Linked DNA regions of Homo sapiens. The protein of the gene in region 4 purifies or fractionates together with the protein of the main gene of each other region. This does not show direct contact. Each region holds a gene or a part of one and is shown on either strand. Other genes may lie near its edges.

Evidence for each region.
Region 1: the proteins of CYP51A1 (region 4) and SNX14 purify together in Homo sapiens (affinity purification with mass spectrometry; one large-scale study listed by BioGRID and IntAct). This does not show direct contact.
Region 2: the proteins of CYP51A1 (region 4) and POPDC2 purify together in Homo sapiens (co-immunoprecipitation; one large-scale study listed by IntAct). This does not show direct contact.
Region 3: the proteins of CYP51A1 (region 4) and HMGCLL1 fractionate together in Homo sapiens (co-fractionation; one large-scale study listed by BioGRID). This does not show direct contact.

Annotation. Positions count from the first base shown.
Region 1 is NC_000006.12:85,583,859-85,587,358, reverse strand, and holds part of SNX14 (sorting nexin-14), read left to right. Parts: intron 1-3,500. UniProt on the Homo sapiens protein: Plays a role in maintaining normal neuronal excitability and synaptic transmission. May be involved in several stages of intracellular trafficking. Required for autophagosome clearance, possibly by mediating the fusion of lysosomes with autophagosomes.
Region 2 is NC_000003.12:119,650,590-119,654,089, reverse strand, and holds part of POPDC2 (popeye domain-containing protein 2), read left to right. Parts: intron 1-3,500. UniProt on the Homo sapiens protein: Important for the maintenance of cardiac function.
Region 3 is NC_000006.12:55,436,193-55,439,692, reverse strand, and holds part of HMGCLL1 (3-hydroxymethyl-3-methylglutaryl-CoA lyase, cytoplasmic), read left to right. Parts: intron 1-133; coding exon 134-259; intron 260-3,500. UniProt on the Homo sapiens protein: Non-mitochondrial 3-hydroxy-3-methylglutaryl-CoA lyase that catalyzes a cation-dependent cleavage of (S)-3-hydroxy-3-methylglutaryl-CoA into acetyl-CoA and acetoacetate, a key step in ketogenesis, the products of which support energy production in nonhepatic animal tissues.
Region 4 is NC_000007.14:92,119,823-92,125,190, forward strand, and holds part of CYP51A1 (lanosterol 14-alpha demethylase), read right to left. Parts: intron 4,032-5,368; coding exon 3,912-4,031; intron 3,494-3,911; coding exon 3,298-3,493; intron 1-3,297. UniProt on the Homo sapiens protein: Sterol 14alpha-demethylase that plays a critical role in the cholesterol biosynthesis pathway, being cholesterol the major sterol component in mammalian membranes as well as a precursor for bile acid and steroid hormone synthesis.

The DNA.
Region 1 (3,500 bases), on a different chromosome or scaffold from region 4:
GTATCCTTGATCTGTCTTGCTAGAGGTTTGTCTTTTTAATTAACTTTTGATATTGAAAATTTCCAAGCATACATAAGAGAGTGTAAAAAACTTGCAAGCACCCATTACTCAACTTTAACAACTATCCATATTTTGCCATATTTTTTTTTTTGCCTTATCTTTTTAAGAAATGTCTTATAGAGTGGGTGAGGTGGCCCATGCCTGTAATTCTTGCTCTCTGGGAGGTGGAGGTGGGAGGATCACTTGAGGCCAGGAGTTGGAGATGAACCTGGGCAACATAGAAAAACACTGTCTCTCTCTCTTTCTTTTTTTTGAGATGGAGTCTCACTTTGTCACCTAGGCTGGAGTGCAGTGGCGTGATCTTGGCTCATTGCAATCTCCACTTCTTCAGTTCAAGGAATTCTTGTGCCTCATCCTCCCAGGTAGCTGGGATTACAGGCATCCACCATCATGCCTGGCTAATTTTTGTGTTTTTAGTGGAGACTCCCAACATGGGGTTTTGCCATGTTGGCCAGGCTGGTCTCAAACTCCTGACCTCAAGTGATCTGCCCACCTCGGCCTCCCAAATTGCTGAAATTATGCACCTGGCCAGAAAGACCCTGTCTGTACCAAAAAAAGAAAAAAAAGTAGCGAGCCTATGGTCCTAGCTAACTCGGGAGGCTGAGGTGGGAGGATTCCTGGAGCCAAGAGTTCAAGGCTACAGTGAAATATGATTGTGCCCCGACACTCCAGCCTGGGTGACAGTGCAAGACCATGTCTCTATAAAAGATAGAAATAAAAAAAAAATCACTTCCATACAAAACTATAATATTACAAAATTAACAATAATTGGTTAATATCATCTAATAACTACTCCATAATAAAAATTTTCCCTATTGGGTAAAAATATATAGTGCAGTTGTTCTAATTGGTATCTAAACAAGTTGTACTCCTATTTGGTTCCTACATCTCAAGCTTTTCTAAATGTCTTGTAATCTAGAATAAGGGTTGACACATTTTTTTCTGTAAAGTGTTAGGTAGTAAATATTTTAGGCTTTGTATACCATGCTAAGTCTCTGTTGCTTATTCTTCTTTCTAAAAAACCCTTTAAAAATGTAAAACCTTTCTTAGTATGAGGGGCATACAAAAACAGGTATACTTTTGTCCACAGGCCATCATTTGTCAACTGCTGATCTGGAAGATCCCTCCTCACCATTTTTTTCTCCTTGCCATTGACTTGTTGAGGAAACTGGATCATTTGTTCACATTCTGGATTTTGTTGTGGTTTCCTTGTAGTGTCTTGTATTTTAATCCTCACATTTGTATTTTTGGTAGTCACAGTGTTTGATCTATAGGCTCAATTAGATTTAGTTTTTTTTTTTTTTTTTTCCTGTTGCGGGGAGTGGTGCAAGAAGACTTTAGTGATGCCATGTACATTCCATTGCATCACATCAGTGGATATGTAAGATAGGATTGCTTCACTTTTAATGGGTTCAGTTAATGTCCACCGATACTGTGTCCAACAAACTTACTCTTTGGTTTTACCATTTATTTATTTCTTGAATCAGTTACTTAATTATGGGTTACAACATGGTTATTCTCGAATTCTCTCATTTCTTCTGTATTTTTAAGTTTGATTCTTTTTTGTAGAATTGCTTTACTCCATCCGTTAGGTCTATTTAGTTATTCTGATAGATAGTTCAAATTGGAAAAGTAGGATAAATGCTTACTCTTTATCAATTTTTAGAGTAATAATTGGTACCCTACTAACCTCCATTAGTATCCAGTTAGAAGTTTGGTTGTTTTATTAATTTTTTCAAAGAACTAGCTTATATTTTGTTAATTTGTCATTGTTGTCTATTTTGTTGATTTCTGCTCTTGACTATTTCCTTCCTTTTCATGTGTTTGGATTTATTGTTTTTCCCCCCAAGTTTCTGAATGCTTAGCTTATTGGTTTTCAGTGTTTTTGTTGTTGTTGTTGTTTGTTTTTTTTTAATTATACTTTAAGTTCTGGGATACATGTGCAGAACATGTGGGTTTGTTACATAGGTATACATGTGCCATGGTGGTTTGCTGCACCCTCAATCCATCATCTACATTAGGTATTTCTCCTAATGCTATCCCTCCCCCAGTCCCCCACTCCCCAGCAGGTCCTGGTTTGTGATATTCCCCTCCCCTGTGTCTATGTGTTCTCATTGTTCAACTCCCACTTATGAGTAAGAACATGCAGTGTTTGGTTTTCTGTTCCTGTGTTAGTTTGCTGAAAATGATGGTTTCCAGCTTCATCCATGTTCCTGAAAAGGACATGAACTCATCCTTTTTTATGGCTGCCTAGTATTTCATGGTGATAGTATTTCCAGTCTATCACTGATGGGCATTTCGGTTGGTTCCAAGTCTCTGCTATTGTGTATAGTGCTGCAATACACAAACGTGTGCATGTGTCTTTATAGCAGAATGATTTATAATTCTTTGGGTATATACCCAGTAATGGGATTGCTGGGTCAAATGGTATTTCTGGTTCTAGATCCTTAAGGAATCACCACACTGTCTTCCACAATGGTGGAACTAATTTACACTCCCACCAACAGTGTAAAAGTGTTCCTGTTTCTCCACATCCTCTCCAGCACCTGTTGTTTCCTGACTTTTTAATGATCACCATTCTAACTAGCATGAAATGGTATCTCATTGTGGTTTTGATTTGCATTTCTCTAATGACCCGTGATGATGAGCTTTTTTTCATATGTTTGTTGGCTGCATAAATGTCTTCTTTTGAGAAGGATCTGTTTGTATCCTTCGCCCACTTTTTGATGGGGTTGTTTGTTTTTTTCTTGTAAATTTGTTTAACTTCCTTGTAGATTCTGGATATTAGCCCTTTCTCAGATGGATAGATTGCAGAAATTTTCTCCCATGCTGTAGGTTGCCTGTTCACTCTGATGATAGTTTCTTTTGCTGTGCAGAAGCTCTTTAGTTTAACTAGATCCCATTTGTCAATTTTGGCTTTGTTGCCATTGCTTTTGGTGTTTTAGTCGTGAAGTCTTTGCCCATGCCTGTGTCCTAAATGGTATTGCCTAGGTTTTATTCTAGGGTTTTTATGGTTTTGGGTCTTACGTTTAAGTGTTTAATCCATCTTTATTTGATTTTTGTATAAGGTGTAAGGAGGGGGTCCAGTTTCAGTTTTCTGCATATGGCTAGCCAGTTTTCCCAACACCATTTATTAAATAGGGAATCCTTTCTTCATTGCTTGTTTTTGTCAGGTTTGTCAAAGATCAGATGGTTGTAGATGTGTGGTGTTATTTCTGAGGCTTCTGTTCTGTTCCATTGGTCTATATATCTGTTTTGGTACCAGTACCTTGCTGTTTTGGTTACTGTAGCCTTGTAGTATAGTTTGAAGCCAGGCAGTTTGATGCCTCCAACTGTGTTCTTTTAGCTTAGGATTGTCTGGCTATATAGGCTCTTTTTTGTTTCCATATGAAATTTAAAGTATTTTTTTTTCTAATTCTGTTAAGAAAGTCAATGGTAGC
Region 2 (3,500 bases), on a different chromosome or scaffold from region 4:
GCCCCTACTCTCCCCTCTGAAATGCATTTCCCCTTCTAGATGAGACCACGGAACCTCACTTCCACTGTGAAGCCTGCTTCCACCCCACAGCCTCACCAGCTTCCACCCCACAGCCTAGCACTCCTGTGTGCCTGTTCTAGTCCTTTTACTTATGCTAACTGGTGCACATCTTGCTGTCTGTTCTAATAATCTGGTCTCCTTTCTGTCTTCTGCACAGTGAACTCTGAAGTACAAATCTAGGCTTTTCCCTCTCTGTTCCCAGACTCTAAAGGAAAGTACCTGGAGCACAGCAGCTGTTCAGTAAAGAATTGCTTGCCGGGCGCGGTGGCTCACGCCTGTAATCCCAGCACTTTGGGAGGCTGAGGTGGGTGGATCCTGAGGTCAGGAGATCGAGACCATCCTGGCTAACACGATGAAATCCCGTCTCTACTAAAAATACAAAAAATTAGCCGGGCATGGTGGCGGGCACCTGTAGTCCCAACTACTTGGGAGGCTGAGGCAGGAGAATGGCGTGAACCCGGGAGGCGGAGCTTGCAGTGAGCCGAGATTGCGCCACTGCACTCCAGCCTGGGCGACAGAGTGAGACTCCGTCTCAAAAAAAAAAAAAAAAGAATTGCTGAACTGGTTTGCCACTGGGCAGCTGGTGTCCCAGAGGACTCCATGGGGCATTCACATACATGCTCCAATGCAGGTTCCTGGCTGCCTGGCCCCTACTCTTCTTATCTCTGCCAATCCCTCAGGCTTTGGTCACTTTCTTTGTAGCTCTCACTTATTGAATGGCTAGCATGTGGCAGGCACTACGTATCATATTGCCTCATTGATTCTCATAACAACTCTATGGGTTGAATATGATTATTACTCCATTTAACAACTGAGGAAACTAAGGCCCAAAAACATCAAGTAATTTGCCCAGGGTCTTCAGCTAGAAAGTGACAAAGCCAAGTTGCCTGGATCTACCATTTCTGTTCTTTATTAAAATGGGAAGGTCACCAGAAGAGTAGAGTTTACACACACACATACACACACACACATGCACACGCATGCACACACGCGCACACACACTCACTCACCCTTTTAAGGACTCCCCTGCCTGGATAGTTTGCTGGACCTGGAAACACTGGATTCCATGTGTCTCCTACTACTTTTATCAGGGAGTCCCTCAAGCCAACATATGAGCCAACCCCGGAACAGACACACACCGGGCAGTGCTACCTGGCAGGGCCTGCTTCTGCCCCCACCCTGACACTTGGCTCTGTGATGATGGAGCCTGAGAGGCAGTCCTGATCCCACTGCCAGGGTCACCAGCCACAGATCCACTTCCATCATGTTCCTACCCTGACCTCCGTCCACACACCCTCCCTAACTAGTCCAGAAACCTTCTTCAGGAACTCTCTCAGGCACATGAGAACCTCCAGGAGGGCTCAGTCAGGACCTGAGCCAGCTGGACCAGGCCTCTTTCTGACACTGACACGGAGGAACAGGTGGTGGGTAAGCCGGGTGTCCTCCCCTAAGTTACGCTCAAGAGGAAGGGCTGTAACCTCACATGGCCTCTCAGCCTGGAATGTAGGTATGGTCATGTTCCTCCCATTTATATTTTTAGCGTGTACCTCCTTTGGGAGTAATGAGAGCCACACATTTGCTATTGGCTGTGTAAAGTCCCATTTCCTCTTTGCAAATGTCAAGTGTTATCTTAAGTTAGAGTTCATCCTGTCCTTGCCTTTTGCAATTACATAGTCTTTGTTGACTGAGAGCAATCCACAGTGACAGCCTAAATTATAATTCACATTGTACCTAATATAAATCAATCAGCATTCCAGCACACCTCTCGACAATTCAATTAAGTCAGAATTCATTGTGTGTTCGGCACTGTGACACTCATTAGTCACCAAGAACACAGCACAGGAGGGATCACACAGAAATCATCACTGTTTTTCTAATTTGCATCCTATCTTACTGGACCTAAGTCCTATTTACATAGGTTATCTCATTTAATTCATTCAACCAACATCTGAGATGAGTATTAAAAAAAAAGCTAAATACTTGTCAAAACGTTACAACAGATATGTCTATATATATGGGAGAACCAATCAAGAAGCAGATTTCAGGAGGACCTTTGGGGAAGGATTTTATACAGGACATGAGAAAGCAACATTAGAGGCTGGGCGCGGTGGCTCACACCTATAACCCCAGCACTTTGGGAGGCCGAGGCAGTTGGATTATGAGGTCAGGAGTTTGAGACCAGCCTGGCCAACATGGTGAAACCCCATCTCTATTAGAAAATACAAAAATTAGCCAGGGTGGTGGCAGGTGCCTATAATCCCAGCTACTCGGGAGGCTGAGGAAGGATAATTGCTTGAACCCGGGAGGTGGACATTGCAGTGAGCTGAGATCACACCGCTGTACTCCAGCCTGGGTGACAGAGCAAGACTTCGTCTCAGGGGGGCGGTGGGGTGGGGGAAGAAAGTGACATTAGGTTGTTTTGCAATATACAAGATTGGCTGTCTTCCCTTGATTCATTTATTCACTTCAATAATATTTATTGAAAACTTAGTATATACCAGGCACTGTTAAAAGGATTTGAAATATATCAGTGAACAGAACAGATGAAGGTCCCTCCCCTCATGCAATTTACATTCTAATGGGGGAGACAAAAAGCCATAGGCATAATGAATAAGTAAATTATATAATTTGTTAGAGGATAATCACTGCTAGTTTAAAAAAAAAAACCTAGAGTAGTGCAAGGGAGAAATGGTGGCAATTTTAAATAGGGTGGTCATGGAAATCCTTGTTAAGCAGATAACATTTGAGCAAAAACCTGAGAGAGATGACAGGTGAGGTCTGTGAATATCTGGGAAAAGCATATCAGACAGAGGAAAGAGCCAGTGCAAAGGCCCTGAGGTGGGGCCAGTGTGTTTGATGCACAGAAAGGAGGACAGTGGACCTGGAATGGAGAGAGGAAGGGGAGGGAATAGCAGGAGAGAAAGTTGGAGAGGTGACGAGGTAGCAAGATCATGTAGGGCCATAGCATATATTGTCTAGATACAGCCAAAAGGATTTTCTAAAGGGTTGGATATAGTATGTGAGAGAAAGAGAAGATCAAGGAAGACTCTAAGGCTTTTGGCCTGAGCAACTGGACAGGTGGTGCTGCTGTCAACTGAGACAAAGAAAGCTGCAGGTAGAGCTGCTTTCGGGGGACTAGGAAGTTCAGTGTTTGATGTTAGGTTTGCATCATCTGTGGACATTTGAATGGAGATGCTGCATAGGCAACTGGATATTTAAGTCTGAAATTCAGGAATGAGATCTGGGCCTGAGACATAAATTTGGGAGTTGGTTGTATGCAGATGATATTTAAAGCCATTGGATAGGATGAGCTCACCAAGTGAGTGAGTGTGGATGGAAGAGGGAATGGTTCAAGAGCGGAGCCCTGGGATACTTTAGTGGTGAGGAGTTGGAGAGGAAAGGAGGAAGCAGCAAAGGAGCTTGAAAAGGAACAATCATGA
Region 3 (3,500 bases), on a different chromosome or scaffold from region 4:
ACTGGGTAAGTGAATATATTTGAATAACCAGTTCAGATTTTGCTTATTTGCAGTTTACCATAGGTTAAATAGAAATGCAACAATTTACATGCCATAAACACACAAGCTTTAGGTGGTTTGGTTTGTTTTCCAGATGGGAATTAATGTGGTGGACTCCGCAGTATCCGGATTAGGTGGCTGCCCTTATGCAAAAGGTGCTTCTGGGAATGTAGCCACTGAGGATTTGATATATATGCTTAATGGCCTGGGGCTCAATACAGTAAGTTACTTTAACGTATTTTAATATTCATGCATTCCTTGCAGCTCCAAATTGCAAAGCTTCTAAGATGTGGGAAGCAATTTTGAGGTCAAAGTTTTACTACACTTTTGCTATTTGCTAAAATGCACAGTGGGAAAATGCAATAAAAATTCTTTTGGGGTCTTTATAAAGTAACTCATTGCTATAGCTCAATCACCAATAATGCTACCATTTCACATTTTTATAGTGCTTCATGACCTCTAAAGAACTTTTTCATGTATTATCTGATTTGATTTTATACACTTTGTGAGTTGGAGCCTGTGTCTTTGCTGTTACGATTGTTGAGTTTTGCAGTTTTGTTTTTTGTATGGATGTTTTTCTTGGAGAAAATGGAGATCTTGATTGTCTCAGTGACAACTGTAGCTTCTGGAAGAACTCCCAGGGCACTTTTTAAATGATCAGTGAAAGAGGGGAGCTTCATAACACTTAGCATATGAGACACTGGATGGCAAGAATAGTCTCTTTGCAAGTTGTACCGGAAAAGTCACGTGCTATGTAACCACATCCACCAAATTCAGCACCTTGTTTTGCCCTATGATTGTTAACACAACCTGTTAGTCTATAGAACCGATTTATTTAGGAAAAAAATAAAAATCACAGATGATTAGACATTTAGAATTTCTGAGATGTAAAATAATCATCTGTATTGTAAAATGAATTTTTTTACTCTCTGCTGCTCCTATTCCTCCTTTTTCCTCATTCTACTTACATTAATGCTCCGGCTGCATTAAACTTGCTTCTAGTCTACAGTTCTGTACCATTTTATTCCTCACTTCTACTCCTTGCTCAGGTTTTCACTACCATGTGAAATGGCCTTATGCCTCGTATTCCATTTGGCCTGGAAAGTAAGACACCACCATCCTAAAAATAAGCCGTCTGGCATCTCCCTGCCTATCCCCCAGGTCAAACTGTTAGGTCCCATTCCTTAGTGTTTTCATGTTTTCCTCTGAACTTACCACAAGGTTATATAATTATCTTGTTTATGTGTCTATCTTCCCATGCAACCACAGAGCAATTATGACAGCTTATTCATACTTTATACTTGGTGCCTGTGGCATAAAGATGCTCCATAAATATTTATTGAAAGACTGATTTCACTTGGCACTAAACACCAACAGCTGTTGCCCATAAACACCAAAAGCTATTGCCTATTTTCTCTGGTTAGAAATAAATGTTATTTCATTTACATCGTATCTTAATCATTTATATCAGAAGCTAATGACATAAATGAGGGTAAATAGCTCCTTTCTTAGAAATTTAGATGACTGAATCGAACTCCATAGCTGATAGCTGATGCTTAATATATGCCAGTTATGTTCCATAACTCTGGAGTCCAAATGCAAATAAATCAAGTTTATTCCTAAAAATTTCAACATCCAAGGGTTGCTACATTGAGTAGCTGCCACAATTCAACTAGTCACCCAAGGCAACAAACCAGGATTCTCTATAGAATTTAATCTCACTATGGATTCCATGTCCAATCAGTTACCAAGAGCTGCTAATCTGACTTTAAAATATTTTGGTTGTCCTTCCCTTACTACCTCTGCTATGACTACATTGATGCAGGTCTGCATCTCTTTCCTGGGTGTTCATCCTATATACTGGTCGCTGGCTCCAGACTTGCCTTTAAAATCTATCTTCCATGCTACCATCAAAGGGTTACACCTAACATATAAGTATGAATAGGCTCTACGTCTGCTTGAGCAAGGATCAGTGGATTCTAATTTCCTGAAAGGAAGCCTGTGCTCTATCACATAATCTGGCCTATTATTACCTTTTCCAGGGTTAATGGTATATTTTGCCTTTATCCATATACGCCATGGATATTTAAGATATCTTGGACTGCTCTTCTCTCTGCCTGCATACAGTGCCCCATATATCCTCCATCCTCTTTTATACATTTTGTATAAACCTCAGGTCAGGCTTTACCCTTCTTGGCACTTTTCCCTGACACATTCCTTTCTGCATTTTTTTTTCCTCAGTGGGTTGATGGCCTCATATCTCTGCCTCCGTAATAACCTGGGCATATCTCTATTTGTGGCTTTAACTATGGTACAGAATTTTCTGTTGTGAGTCCACATTGCTTGCTTGAACTTGAAGGCAGAAACCACATTCTACGTGAGGTTCTTGAAACTCCAGAATCTATCATAGTATACGAGACATATTTAAGCACCCGACAAATGATTTAAGAATACATGCAGTGTTGTTTCATAATGATATCTACTGGTTAAATAAAATGGTAGAGAAAAGCCAAAACAAAATTCTTCTTTGGTGCGATATCAACAAATTCTACTGTATAATTGTGACAAATGGACTTACTGAAAAGAGAAGAAAGACATTAATGACAAAAATCTTTCTGTCAACCCTTGCTGGATGTAATTTATAAGTGAAAGGCACCTGAAGTTAATTGTTTACAGAATTTAAGTATCATTGGATTAAGGATGTTAAACAGATACTCCACGTAAAGCCGTTACCACGACAAAACCAACTTTCTCAAACCAAAGCAAATGTTAGTATCCTGAAAACAACTTTGTAATAAAAAGACATCATGAAAATAATTTACAAGTATCACTTTACAAAATATTTTTAATTCTTAAAGAGATAAGTAATTAGCTATATCGAAATGTCTCCAATTTCTAAAATGATATTCATTGTTATGAAAAGCCCCTATGAGTTTTTATACTTGTCTATTTTATGAAAGTGACAAGTTTTCATAGATATTAAAAAGTACTTTATAATAGCAAGGAAAACTGAATATTTTCAATTTTAAGCCCACATTGTTTCTAGTCCATATTGAGGGGGAACATAGAAGCTTATGAAATGCCACATAAGGGCAAGTTTGTGCTTAATCCACTTAATGCTTTGCCTCCTCCGGTGACAACAAAAGTGCTGGGTGGAAACTTTGATAGTGACCCTTTCCTTACACTAAAGCCAAGAGCATGTCCTGAACTTGCCCTTTATACCCAGCTGCATATCTGTCATCCATGGATTTACCTGAGCTTTTGTTGATCCTATTTATACTTTCAGACAGTACAACCTCTCAGGCGAACAAGTTCCAGATGTGTACTAAATACCACTTCATTTTATTTCACTTGCAACTACCTCCTTCAATATCATACTAGTAATAGTATTTCTGGCCTTGGTTTAAAAAATATATATGTATATATATGCATACACCTTTTCTGTAATCCTTATGGCTTTT
Region 4 (5,368 bases):
TTTAAATCAGCTATTATAAACAGGTTCAAAGAACTATAGCAAAATATGCCTAGATATCTCTAGTAAAATGGAGAATATCAATATATTATTTTTTTAGAGAACCAAATAGAAATTCAAGAACTGAGAAGTATGAGAACTGAAATGAAAAATTCACCCGAGGGGATCAACAGCAGATTTGGACTGGCAGAAGAAAGAATAACATCAAAAAAATAACAATAATAAAATACTTAAGAATACATTTAACAAGAGAAGTTTAAACATTGTGCACCAAAAACTATAAAACATTGTTGAAAGAAATTAAAGAACTAAAATAAGAGAAAGACATCTCATGTTCACAGATTTAAAGACTAAAATTGTGCTCCCAAATTAATATGGCGATACAATGCAATCATTGTCAAAAATCTCAGCTAGCTTCTTTGCAGAAACTGACACACTGACCCCAAAATTCATATGGAAACTAAAGGGACTAGGAGTAGATAAACAGCCTTGAAAAGGACAAAGTCAGAGGACTCACACTCCCGAATTCAAAACTTATTACAAAACTACGTAATGGCATCAGACTAAACATATCAATGGAATAGAACTGAGTCCAGAAATAAAGCCTTAAATTTATGGTCAAGAGGCTTTTTAAAATGTATTTATTTTTTCAGAGACAGGGTTTCGCTATGTTGCCCAGGCTGGACCCCAAGTCCTGAGCTCAAGCGACCTTCCCATCTCAGCTTCTCAGTAGCTGAGAATACAGGCACGTGCCACTGCGCCTGGCTATAATAGATTTTTTTACAAAGACAATTCAACGTGGAAAAAATAGTCTTTTCAACAAACAGTGTGGGACAACTGGATAAACACATGCAAAAGAATGATGACCTCACATCATATACATAAATTAATTCATAATGGATCAAAGACCTAAATGTAAGATATGAAACTACAAAACACTAAGAAGAATACACAGAAATAAATCTTCATACACTTTGATTAGGCATTAGTTTCTCTGACACCAAAAGCACATTAAAAAAAAATAGATGAACTCTTACAACTCAATAATAAAAAGACAACTCATTTTAAATATGGGAACAGGATGTGAGCAGACATTTCTCCAAAGAAGTATACCAAAGCCAAAGAACACATCATAAGACACTCAACATCACTAGTCACCAGGGAAATGCAAAATCAAAACAAAATACCAACTGGGCATGGTGGCTCACACCTGTAATCCCAGCACTTTGGGAGGCCAAGGCGGGCAGATGACTTGAGGTCAGGAGTTCAAGACCAGCCTGGCCAATATGGTACAACCTTGTCTCTACCAAAAATACAAAAATTAGCCAGGCGTGGTGGTGTGTACCCAGCTACTTGGGAGGCTGAGGAAGGAGAATAGCTTGAACCTGGGAAGCCGAGGTTGCAGTAAGCCAAGGTCGCGCCATTGCACTAGAGCCTGGGCATCACACCAAGACTCTGTCTCAAAAAAAAAAAAAAAAGTATCACTTCACACCTATTATAATAAAAAAATCAAGTAACAAGTTTGGTGAGGGGGTGAAGTCAGGACCAACATATACTGTTTAGTGAGATTTGAAAGTGGTGCAGCCACTTTTTAAAACAGTCTGGCAGTTCTTCAAAGTTACCTTATAACCCAGCAATTCTACTCCTAGGTATGACCCCCCAAAATTGAAAACACATGTCCACATAAAATCAGTACACAAACGTTTAGAGCGGCATTATTCATAATAGTTTAAAAGGTGGAAACAACTCAAATGTCCATCAACTGATGAACAAATAAACAAAATGTGGTCTATCCATATAATGGAATATTATTGGTAATAACAAAGACTGAAGTACTGATACATGCTACAACATGGAAGAACCCTGATAACATGCTAAGTGAAACAAGGTAGTCACAAAAGACTACAAATTGTATGATCCCATTTACATGAAATATCCAGAATAGGCAAACTCACAGAGGCAAAAGGAGATTAATGGTTGCCAGGGGCAGCAGTCAGGGAGAATGAAGCATGACTGCTAATGGGTACCAGCTCTCTTTTGGGAGTGATGTAAATGTTCTAAAATTAAATTATGATGATGGTTTCCCAACTCTTAATATGCTAAAAACCACAAAGTGTACATTTTAAATGGATGGATTTATGCTATGTAAATATATCAGTTAAGCTGTTATTTTAAGTTACTAAAAACAAGAATGAGTGTTGAGACATCACTACTGAGCTTACAGAAATAAAAAGGATTATGAGAATACTATGAACAATTGTATGCCAACAAATTAGGTAACCTAGATGAAATGGACAAATTCCTAGAGAGATATAAACTACTGAAACTGACATAAGAAGAAATGGAATATCTGAATAAACCTGTAACAAATAAATTGAATTAGTAAGTAAAGTCTTCTCAGAAAGAAAAGCACAGATCTAGATGATTTCACTGCTGAATTTTTGCAAATATGTAAAAAAGGATTAACACCAATCATCCACAAACTCTTCCAAAAATTAGAAGAAAAAAAGAATACTTCCAAATACATTCTATGAGATGAGTATGATCCTGATATCAAAACCAGTCAAAGACATCACAGTGAAACTAGAGATCAATATCCTTTATGAATATAGATGCAAAAATCCTCAACAAAACACCAGCAAGTTTATATGTAGTAACATATAGAAAGAACTATGCACCATGACAAAGTAGGATTTATCCCAGGAATACAATTAACATCTGAAAATCAGTGTAATGTGCCATATTAATATAGGACCAAAAGCACAAAAGATAACAGGAAGATGACATCACCAAGGTTTGCTTCCAAGATGGAATGTCAGGTTGTGCAGTGAGTTGTCCTCTCTTCCTTTCCACCCAGCAAGTTGCATGTAGTATTTGTAAATGTCTTGTCCTCATTACTACTACTACTACTACTTTTAGAAGTCTCTGCTCATGCCCAGGCCACTCTGGACATACAGAATTCTAAGTAATTCAGAGGCTTCTACACTTCATAAGACACACAACATGCACATAATATCCTCTATGTACAGAAGCCAGACTTTGAAGCAGAGGAAGTAAGTACCAAAGAAACATCCCCAAGGATCTCTAAGCCATCAACCCAAAACATATCTGATAAAGCTTAATGGCAAGAAGCAATAACATTAAGATATTTTAGGTAAGGTTATAGGGAATTTGCTAAAAATAGAGAAGCTGATCAATTTAAGCTATAGTATATAGAAAATCTCAAATTGTCCCTTTTAAAAATTAGCCACAGATCCTCAAAGTCATAAGGCAGCAATGAAACTGAAAAATCCAACAAACCTGGTCATAAGTTAAAGGAGGCAGATTCTCTCCACAGACTGTTTTCTGTTCTAAATAACATTTTTTTTGAAGTGTTTTGTCTCTGGCCAAAAAGAAGCCCATCCAAGCACTAGTAGTTGAGGATGTATGCTGCCCTGCCAAGAGTAATCCAATAAGCATCCCTGCTACTTCATCATCAGTCAAAGGACGCCCATCCCTAAGGAATGAACCAAAGACACAAATTTAACATTTTGGCAGATACATTTCATGCCTCAACCTTTAAATAAAGTGTCATAATGAATACATTTTTCAGGTATAGTGGTCTCTTATATTTGACTATCACAAGTCAAGAGTTTTTTTTCTCTTAGGGAAGAGACAGACCAGCACAAAACGATTTTGATTACAAAAGACTCCATTACAGTTCATTAGCAAACTTTTACCATACCCAGTCACTGGGATTACAGTAAGACACAGGATGCCAATAGTTTATGTCTCAACAATTTAAAGAGTCCAAAGATCACAGCTACCAACTTATTTTGCCAGCATCACTGTTTTTTAACTGGAAATACTATTTAACTGTGTTTTAATGTGTAATTTCCTGCTTCAGCTTAATATGTTATCTGAATAGCTCTTACTTGTATGTAGCATCTAGTAAAGTTTGGAGAATGTCATCAATTTTTTCTTGAGACTGTCTGCGTTTCTGGATTGCCTTATAGAAAATATCCTTGATTTCCCGATGAGCTCTGTCCCTGCGTCTGTAATTAAAAGATAAAGATGATTTTCTTAAATAAAGAAATAACCTTCTAGGATCAAATTCATTTTGAGAACCAGGACCGAGCATAAAGCATCTTATTTAACCAACTTTAATGACTCTAAAATAATTGACAAAAAAATCAGAACCAGGAACATACTGGAAGTCATGAAAATCTTACATTGTTAAAAATGTCCATAGTCCCTAAGGGCAAGAACTGTGCTTTATTTAACATATATATCCCAGATTCTTAACACATTGCCTGTGTTCAAACTAAAGGCCTAAAACAAGCAAGAAATTCCTTTAGAAGTATTTTCCAGTTCAACAGAAAGTAGGATACTCTTTTAAATTAACATAAAATTCCAATTTTAATACCAAATCAAGTCTTAAAGCAGAAGAGTCACTCTGGTTCTTCCATGGAATCTGGTTCTACTTTTCACTTTCTAATACAATAGTTTTTTGTAGGGGGTGAAAATACTAGCAGATTCAGAAAACAAGCTTCAACTCCTAAACTTTACCTTTAAATAGTATGTTCACTATGTAGCAGGTACCATGTTAAGTGTTTTACATGAATTACTCACTTTTATCTTCCTGTGAGGTACATACTATTAACCTCAAGTTATAGCTAGCTGCATAAGATCACACAGAAAGCAAACATTGGAGCTGGAATTTAAAACTAGGCAGTCTGACTCCCAAGCCCCCTCTTAAATCAAGCCTTCTAAAAAAAACTCCTACTCTGTTTCATTTACAAGACTGTTAATCTGTTATTGAGGATCAACTGAAACCATGTGTACAGAAGAGAAGATGTTGGGGCTTAACTGTATGAATACAGTCGAACCAGGAAAACATAGGCCTGTTTAAGAAAGTGAATTGAATAATCTGGTTAAATTAGTTGGTATGAGTAGAAGAAAGAAAGACTGGGCCAGAATGTGAAGGGCCTAACATAGCAAGCTCTGACTTCATCCAAGAGACAGAGCAGGTAGAAACAGGCAGGTAGAAATGTACATTTATGGGCCAGGTGCAGTGGCTCACGCCTGTAATCCCAGCACTATGGGAGGCCGAGGCGGGCGGATCACAAGGTCGGGAGATCAAGACCATCCTGGCTAACACGGTGAAACCCCATCTCTACTAAAAGTACAAAACAATTAGCCAGGCTTGGTGGCGGGTGCCTGTAGTCCCAGCTACTCGGGAGGCTGAGGCAGGAGAATGGCGTGAACCTGGGAAGCAGAGCTTGCAGTGAGCCGAGCTCATGCCACTGCACTCCAGCCTGGGCGAGAGAGCAAGACTCCATCACCAAAAAAAAAAAAAAAAAAAAGAAATGCACATTTATGGAGAACCCAC